2 linked regions of the Homo sapiens genome follow. The protein of the gene in region 2 purifies or fractionates together with the protein of the main gene of each other region. This does not show direct contact. Each region holds a gene or a part of one and is shown on either strand. Other genes may lie near its edges. The genes, in order: SFSWAP and AKNAD1.

Evidence for each region.
Region 1: the proteins of AKNAD1 (region 2) and SFSWAP purify together in Homo sapiens (affinity purification with mass spectrometry; one large-scale study listed by BioGRID and IntAct). This does not show direct contact.

The regions. Positions count from the first base shown.
Region 1 is NC_000012.12:131,748,811-131,752,629, reverse strand, and holds part of SFSWAP (splicing factor, suppressor of white-apricot homolog), read right to left. Parts: intron 1-3,819.
Region 2 is NC_000001.11:108,846,923-108,850,741, forward strand, and holds part of AKNAD1 (protein AKNAD1), read right to left. Parts: intron 2,655-3,819; coding exon 2,615-2,654; intron 2,139-2,614; coding exon 1,990-2,138; intron 1,893-1,989; coding exon 1,830-1,892; intron 1-1,829.

The sequences.
Region 1 (3,819 bases), on a different chromosome or scaffold from region 2:
CCCCTCAGTAAGGCAGCTGCTCCTGGCAACCCTGGCGTCAGCCCCCGGCCCCAGCAACACAGGCTGTGCAGGAATTTATTCAGTAAATAAAAGTTCCCAGGGGCACTGAGGCTGTGTCTGGACCTTTCCATCACAGACAGTGATGTATGCCGTCTTGCCACCTATGCTGTGCACACAAGCAGGTATCTGTAGGGTAGAGGCACGCTGTCTTAACAATTAAAAATCCTGTACATTTATCCTTTTTGGGGTTAAATGTTCAGAACCACGAATCACAGAAGATTCAATGATTAATTACGAAATTTAATTTCCAGTCCTGTTGTAGATAAGCAAGTAGTTCTGACTACACAGAGATTTAATTTCCTCTTTATTAGGAGATGGCAAAAATATTTTTCGAATTAAGAACTTTTATCTTCACTTTCAATCAATTCACCTTAAAACAATAACATTGAAAAACAGTAAAAGCTTAACTATGGTTTCCAGTAATGTATGCTATGCAGAGAAAAATTTCAGAAGTACAACTTAGACTATCTTGACCTTTCCATCTTAGATTGGCGAGGCAGCATAATTCCTATGTGCTGTAGGCATATTCCCCAGCTGCTAATGACTTATTTAAATTAATTATACATGATGAACTCCTAAACCGTTGTTCTCTAGCTCCATGTTACACACCAACCACCATGACACAGAAACAGTAATACTCCAAATTTTCAAAATAAGATAAGTGGGTTCGATGTGCTCCACATTATCGTCAACACAGATATATCTGAGCAACATTTCTGAGAAAAGGCCGGGAGCAGGGGATGAGACCCTTGGATGTCAATGGGAGGCTGACAGCAGGGCAGGCACCGTCTCTGAGGCTCCTGCAGCGGCAGGTCCTGTCTTCACTGTCTCTGCAGCCTCTGCATTGAGCAGAGTATGTGCTGGACCAACGAACTGACCTGATGGTCCAACATAGGCTTCCTATCAAAATCAGGAATCCGAATATAAGCATGTGCTTCTGTAAGAGACAACGTCATCCCTGGAAGGGGGGAGCTGCTGCTTCCACCCACTCCCTGCTGGAGCCATCAGGCTACTATGTATGGATGCTTCCTCTCAGCCAGGGCGAAGCCAGCACTCCAGGGGAGAGAGTGCAGCCCAGTGTGTGCTTAGCTCTGGGGAGGGCCAGGCGGAACTGACCCCACTACCGACTGGCTACTGTCAGGTCTCCAGCCTCCCACCTCAGCAGGAAGGACGGAAACCCCATGTCCTGCTCTGGACAGTCAGTCTCACCCCTAAAAAGTGTCCAAACATGTTTTAAACTGGGGCCACAAAGGACGGGATCTGAATTCACAAAAACAAACAAAACAAAACGGTTTATAATTATTTCAACTAGTAGTACATATTATGCAGCTCCAACCTGATACCTGCATTCTTTATGTAACTGTGTAAAGTGCAATCACACTGGAACACAACAGAGATGAAGAAACTGTTTTCAAAGCTGAGCGCCATTCCTTTAAAGAACACGCAGACTGTTAGTCTATATGACCTTCCTGAGCCTTCCATCTTGTTAAATAAAAACGAAGTGTTAAAAAAAATAGCAGTGCCGGCAAAATGGCAGACTGCTCAGAGACTCATCCACTACAAATGTCAAAAATGTCAGCTAATTTGAAAAATTTAGGCTGGGTGCCATGGGTCACACCTATAATCCCAGCACTTTGGTAGGCTGAGGTGGGAGGATGCTTCAGGCCTGGGCAATACCATCAGACCCCATCTCCAAAAAATAAAATAAAATAAACTAGCTGGGCATGGTACACATCTACAGTCCCAGCTACTTGGGAGGCTGTGGCAGGAGGATGGCTTGAGCCCAGGAGTTTGGGGCTGCAGTGAGGTGTTGATGGCACCATTGTGCTCCAGCTTGGGTGATGGAGTGAGCCCCTGAGCTGAGCTCACAAAAAGAAAAAAAGGCTGCCTGTAGGTGTAAAAATGAAACAAATGCCCAAATCTGAAAACACTCCAGGGACATCCTAGCCTAGGTCCACAACTTGCTTCAGAGGCTCCACGCTAAAAACCACTCAGGCTGACAATGCTCTGGGCACACCCTTGACCCAGACCCAGGAGATTCTCACAGAGGAGAGCTGTGAAGCCGAGACACGCGCAGCCTCTGTGAGGCGGTCTGCTGCTAGCCACTGCTGCTGTCACCTCTTCCCCACACACACCTGTGATTCTCTCCAAGGTTTTAATCAAATTTGAAAATCATCCTGTCTCTCAAAAGGACTCCAAGAGAAATAAAGTATGTGTTGCTTGATGAGATGAAAACACTTCTCTGTCTGCCGACAGAGAATGTGGGACGTGTCCTATGGCACTGCCATGCTCGGAGGCAGCCCGGGAACCAACACCACAGTGGTTCATGAATTCCGCTACACCGTTCCTGGGTTGCTTCTCCCAGATTCTCACTTCATAGGGTGTCAGGGATGTGAAGATCTAAGGGAGGACGTCAGATCCATCCTTCCCCAGACACTGTGGCCCTGGTGGGAGGCAGGACGGGCACAAGTCATCTGGAGCAGCCCAGGGCCAGCCTCCCGAAGGGCTTCTGCCGCTTGCCCAGCCCACCCCTTGCCCTGGCTTCTGTTCCCCAGGTCTCTGTCCTTTGCACGGCCTCACAGGGTCTCTGCCTGCCATGAGGCCCCTATTCAGCTTATCTCCAGTGCCACCTCTTTCGGGAAGCCTCTGCCTCCTTGGCAGACTCAGGAGGCCTTTGCTCTGGGCTCGCGTGGGGACCCTGTAAACAACGCCCTATGGCAACTCCTGCGCCACTAGGACTGGTGTGCAGCTATGTTCCCAAGGACTCCATATCTCCAAATAGTGACCACAAAACCTTAGCCGCTCACACAGCTCCTGGCATGAGCAGGCCCTCAGTAAGTGTTTAATGAGTGAGTTCATGCCAGCTGGTGGCACGGCCTGGACTGCTTCTAAAATGCCTCAGTGCTAAAATATCCTGCAGTGACCATGAAGCTGCTTGACACGTGCCGCACACAATGGTGGCACCATACAGCTCACAGAACCCTTTAACTGGACTGAAGCCCTTTAAACTGACTACCAACTATAGGACACAGGGATTTTGTATACAGCCCCTTGTATGTTGTACACAGCAATTCTCGTGAACACTAAATTTTAAGAATTTCTGGACTAGTACAGGGTGACAACAGAAATAAAATCTACAAGCTGGGCTGTAGTCTACAAACTGAAGTCTGGGCTGGCAAAAGCCACATCAGCTTTACAATAACTGTGCCATTACTAGTCATGAACGGGGGAGGGCACAGTGTGCCAAGGGGCTCCTGCTGTCCTCAGGCTGCCACGACATGCCGGGATTCTCCTGGGCTTATAGCGAGGCTACTTCCCGACAACCCCACCATACACTGACAACACCGTGAAGTGGAAAATGCACAGAATCCACCTATAACCCACCGAACACCATGGCACAGCCTCACCTGCCTTAAATGTGCTCAGGGCACCTACAGTAGCTGACGGCTGGATGACATCATCTAACACGAAGCCTATTTTATAATAAAGTTTTTAGTATCTCAAGCATTTTACTGATGTTCTACTGAATGCAAATTGCATGTGCACCATCATCGAGTTGAACCCTCAGTAAGCTGGGACCACATATATCTTGTTAGGTTTGTTGCTGTTCTTAGGATTTTATATTGAATTTCCCAAAGGGGACTACGTTTTAAACTAAGTTAAATGCTGACGTAATGTTACTCTAATAAACGCTATGAGTACTACGAAAGCCTACTCCAAATAAATCCAAGAAAGAAATTCCAATAGGTACCTACACAG
Region 2 (3,819 bases):
CTTGGTTACCCAAGCCAGAAATCTGGAGCTCATCCAAGCCTCTTCCCTTCCTCTCTTCAGCCCTTTCCATCTGCCACCATTTCCCTAAACCCCCAGATTTGTCCCCATCTCCAGCCTCATTGCCAGCCTTCGTTCAGGCCCTCCTGACTTGTTACCTGGATTCTGGCTTCCGAACCAATCTCTGTGCCTTCAGCCTTGCCCCCATGGTGCTTCCCATTTGTCAGCTTGAAAACCTTCAATGCAGCCAGGTGCAGCGGCTCATGCCTGTAATCCCAGCACTTTGGGAGACCGAGGCAGGTGGATCACCCTGAAGTCAGGAGTTCAAGACCAGCCCAGCCAACATGGTGAAACCCCGTCTCTACTAAAAATACAAAAATTAGCCAGGCACGGTGGTGCACACCTGTAACTCCAGCTACTTGGGAGGCTGAGGCAGGAGAATCACTTGAACTTGGGGAGTGGAAGTTGCAGTGAGCTGAGATCACACCACTGCACTCTAGCATGAGTGACAGAATGAGACCGTGTCTCAAAAAAAAAAAAACAAAAAAAAAAACCTTCAATGCTGCCCAATTACTCAGCCTCAGGCATGGCTTAAAGGCCTTCATGAAGTACCCCTGTCCACCTCCCCTGTCTCCTCCCCCACCCCCATGTCACCACGTGCTCCCAAGTGCTGTATGGTAAATCACAGTGCCCACAGCTCCTCACACTGGCAGCACTTCCTCACCCCTGTGCCATTGCACCTGCTGTTTTCTTTTTCTAGAATACCCCTTGGTCTCCTGCCAAGCTCATCCCTATTCCTTCTGCAACACCCAGCTCAGAAGTGACTTCCAGGAAGCCTTCCAAATGTCCCCTCACTGGCAAAGGTGAGCCTCTTCTAGGCTGCCATTAGCATTCTCTGTAACATTTCTCCAGCTGCATTTTAGCTGCCTGTTTACCAGTCCACTGTTCCTAAGAGACTATAAACCACTTGGAAAAGGAATTGTTTATTCATCTTGAATTCCTAGTGCCTGGTACAGGGTCTGGGACATAGAAAGTGCCTGATAAATGTTTGTTGAATGAATGATTTAATTAACAGGATAAAGGAGAGAATAATCAACTGTGTCTTTTAGCATTTGGGTCCCCTGGTTTTTGTCCATGCTGCTAGGTTTCTGAAGCACAGCCCTCCCTAAACCTTGCTTGTGCCTACATCAGAACTTCTGACCTTATCCCTTGTTGATGAGCCAATGGCCTCAACTACATCTTCAATGTCAGGTCAGCATACTTCTGGTTCTCCCAGCCTTACCCTTCACCCCATTGCTCCACCCCCTTCCCATGATCCTGGCACTGACAACATGACTGCTGTGGTGATGACATAAATTAATGGTTTGATTAAATGCAGCAACTAGCAAGGATATGAAAGGAAAAGATTTTGACCTGAAAAACATTGCTTCAAGGTTGATTTTATGAGTATTCAAAGTCATATTTAATTTCCAGGTAATGGCAATTTTTATAACCTGAATTCACCAGTACCCATCAACTGCGGACAGGCCCACTCTTTATAACTGATTATGGGTTCTTCTCTTGAACCTCCCGTGGTGTCAGATTAATTATGAGTAACCTGGCAAGGAGTAATAGCCATAAGTAATAGATCCCCTGAGAAGGAAAGAGGGCTAAATAGATAGAGAAACAGAATTCTAAGCTCTTTTAGCCCCCATAAACAAAGATGGTTTAATCTTTAGCAAAACATTTCCACTCCCACCACTGTAGAGAAAACATGGCACTATAAAGTTATTTATCTTTATCCAAGCCATATTCTCTAATCAAGATTTTAAAAACGGGATAAAATTCATTACCAGCTTCTTGTCTTGCAAATGGTAAGGAGAGTCCTGTTTTATTCTTTTGGAAAATTCTTGTACCTGCAGTGAAAAAATTACAATCTCTCATTAATGGCATGGTTTCTCATGTGTGAATTTGGTTACTTATATTGTTTATAATAAGCTTTAAAAGTATTACTTTAGTCTTCAGTTGATCAGTCTGTTCTTTCAACTTCTGACACATCTGTTTCCCTTGGGATATCTTTTGAAATATGTAAGAAGAACTTGAGGAAGTGCCTTTCTGAGAGGTTGGTGACAACTTAGAGAGACTTGCCTCAGATTCTATTCCTATACAAGAAAGAACACATTTGGGCTACCATTCATCTCAACTTATCACAGTTTTATTAAGTACTGAAAACAGAAAGCTGTTGCAGTCACCACCACTTACTATTTTTAAAATTTAATTTTTTTCAAAATATTTATCTAGGCCAGGCACAGTGGCTCACACCTGTAATCCCAGCACTTTGGGAGGCCAAAGCGGGGGGATCACTTGAAGCCAGGAGTTCAAGACCATCCTCAGCAACAAAGTGAGACCCCACATCTACAAAAAAAAAAAATTATCTAGGTGTGGTGGCATGCACCTGTAATCCCAGCTACTCGGGAGGATGAGGTGGGAGGATCATTTGAGCCCCAGAGGTCAAGGCTGCAATGAACCAAGATTGTGCTGCTGCACTCCAGCCTGGGTGACAGAGTGAGACCCTGTCTCAAAAAGACAAAAACAAAACATATATATATATCTCAAAGAAGTTTTAAAACATTAGTACCTGTGAGAAGTTCTTGGTGGATATGTACTATGGGCTCCATCTGCACAATTAAAGGGTAAGAAAACGTTACTGTCGATATTGATCAATGACACCACCGTTCAGAATGACCCAACATGTTCTGTCATCATAGAGGGAGCCCAGGTTTGCAGTCAAGAGCCGGAGCCATGATGCCAAGGTTGAATTCCACTCTGACACTTACTTGCTGGGCAACCCAAGTAATTGTCTCATCACTTATAAGCCTGCAATTCTTTGGCAGGAAAATGGGGATAGTAAGTGAACCTGCCTCAGGGGGTTGTTATGAGGATGAAATGTTAAATATCTACCATAGTATCAGGCAGGTGGTAAGCATGTAACAATACATGTTACCTGTTATCACCATTGTGTTTGATACTGGTATGTGAAATGCTGAAACATTTCTCCTAAAACTAGACTATAAGTTTCACAAGGGTAGGGACCATGGCTGGTCTTGTCACCAGCTCTGTTGCTGGTGCTGTCACTAACACAAAACTCATGGTAGCCACACTCTAGAGAATAACAGAGGATGCATTAAGTTCCAAACTGTGTGTCAAGATAGTGATGGTTTTCTACTCACCACTGGCTAATTGAACAGTTTAAATTCCAGAGTGATTCACCTTGTGGGGTCTTTCCTTTGTTCCCAACACATAAAGCTCAGAAACACGCTAGTGCTGGAGAGCTGGTCAAAATGGACTATGGTCTTTCTAGACATCTCAACTATATGACGGATATGAAACCTGCAGTGTCCAATTCTCCAATCTGAATTGACAGAACTGGAAAAAATCAGATACCTGACCTCGAACCCCCATACCAGAGGGAGAAGAGCCTGATATCCATCTGCTCCTGCTAACCACGGGGCACTGAGAACTGGACACAATGAGGATGTTCTCCTGCAAGCAGAACAAGGAACCCCGACACTTCCCAATACCACGGGGGTGTAGGTTTCTCTCAGACCTAGAGAGCATCCCAGTCATGGCCAGGTGGGCTGTTGGCTCAGGTTTGGATGTAGGGGGTTCTGCTCAAACTCCCCAGGCATTCAGTTGAAAGAGAGGGGAGCTGAAGTGTGAAAATGGAAATGGAAATTAAAAAAAAGAGAGAGAGAGAAAAATCACTTCCAAGGTTAGGTTACAGAAAAAGAGAGAGAATGGAAATGGAAACAGGCAGTGTGGTTCAGTCCAGGACACCTTCAT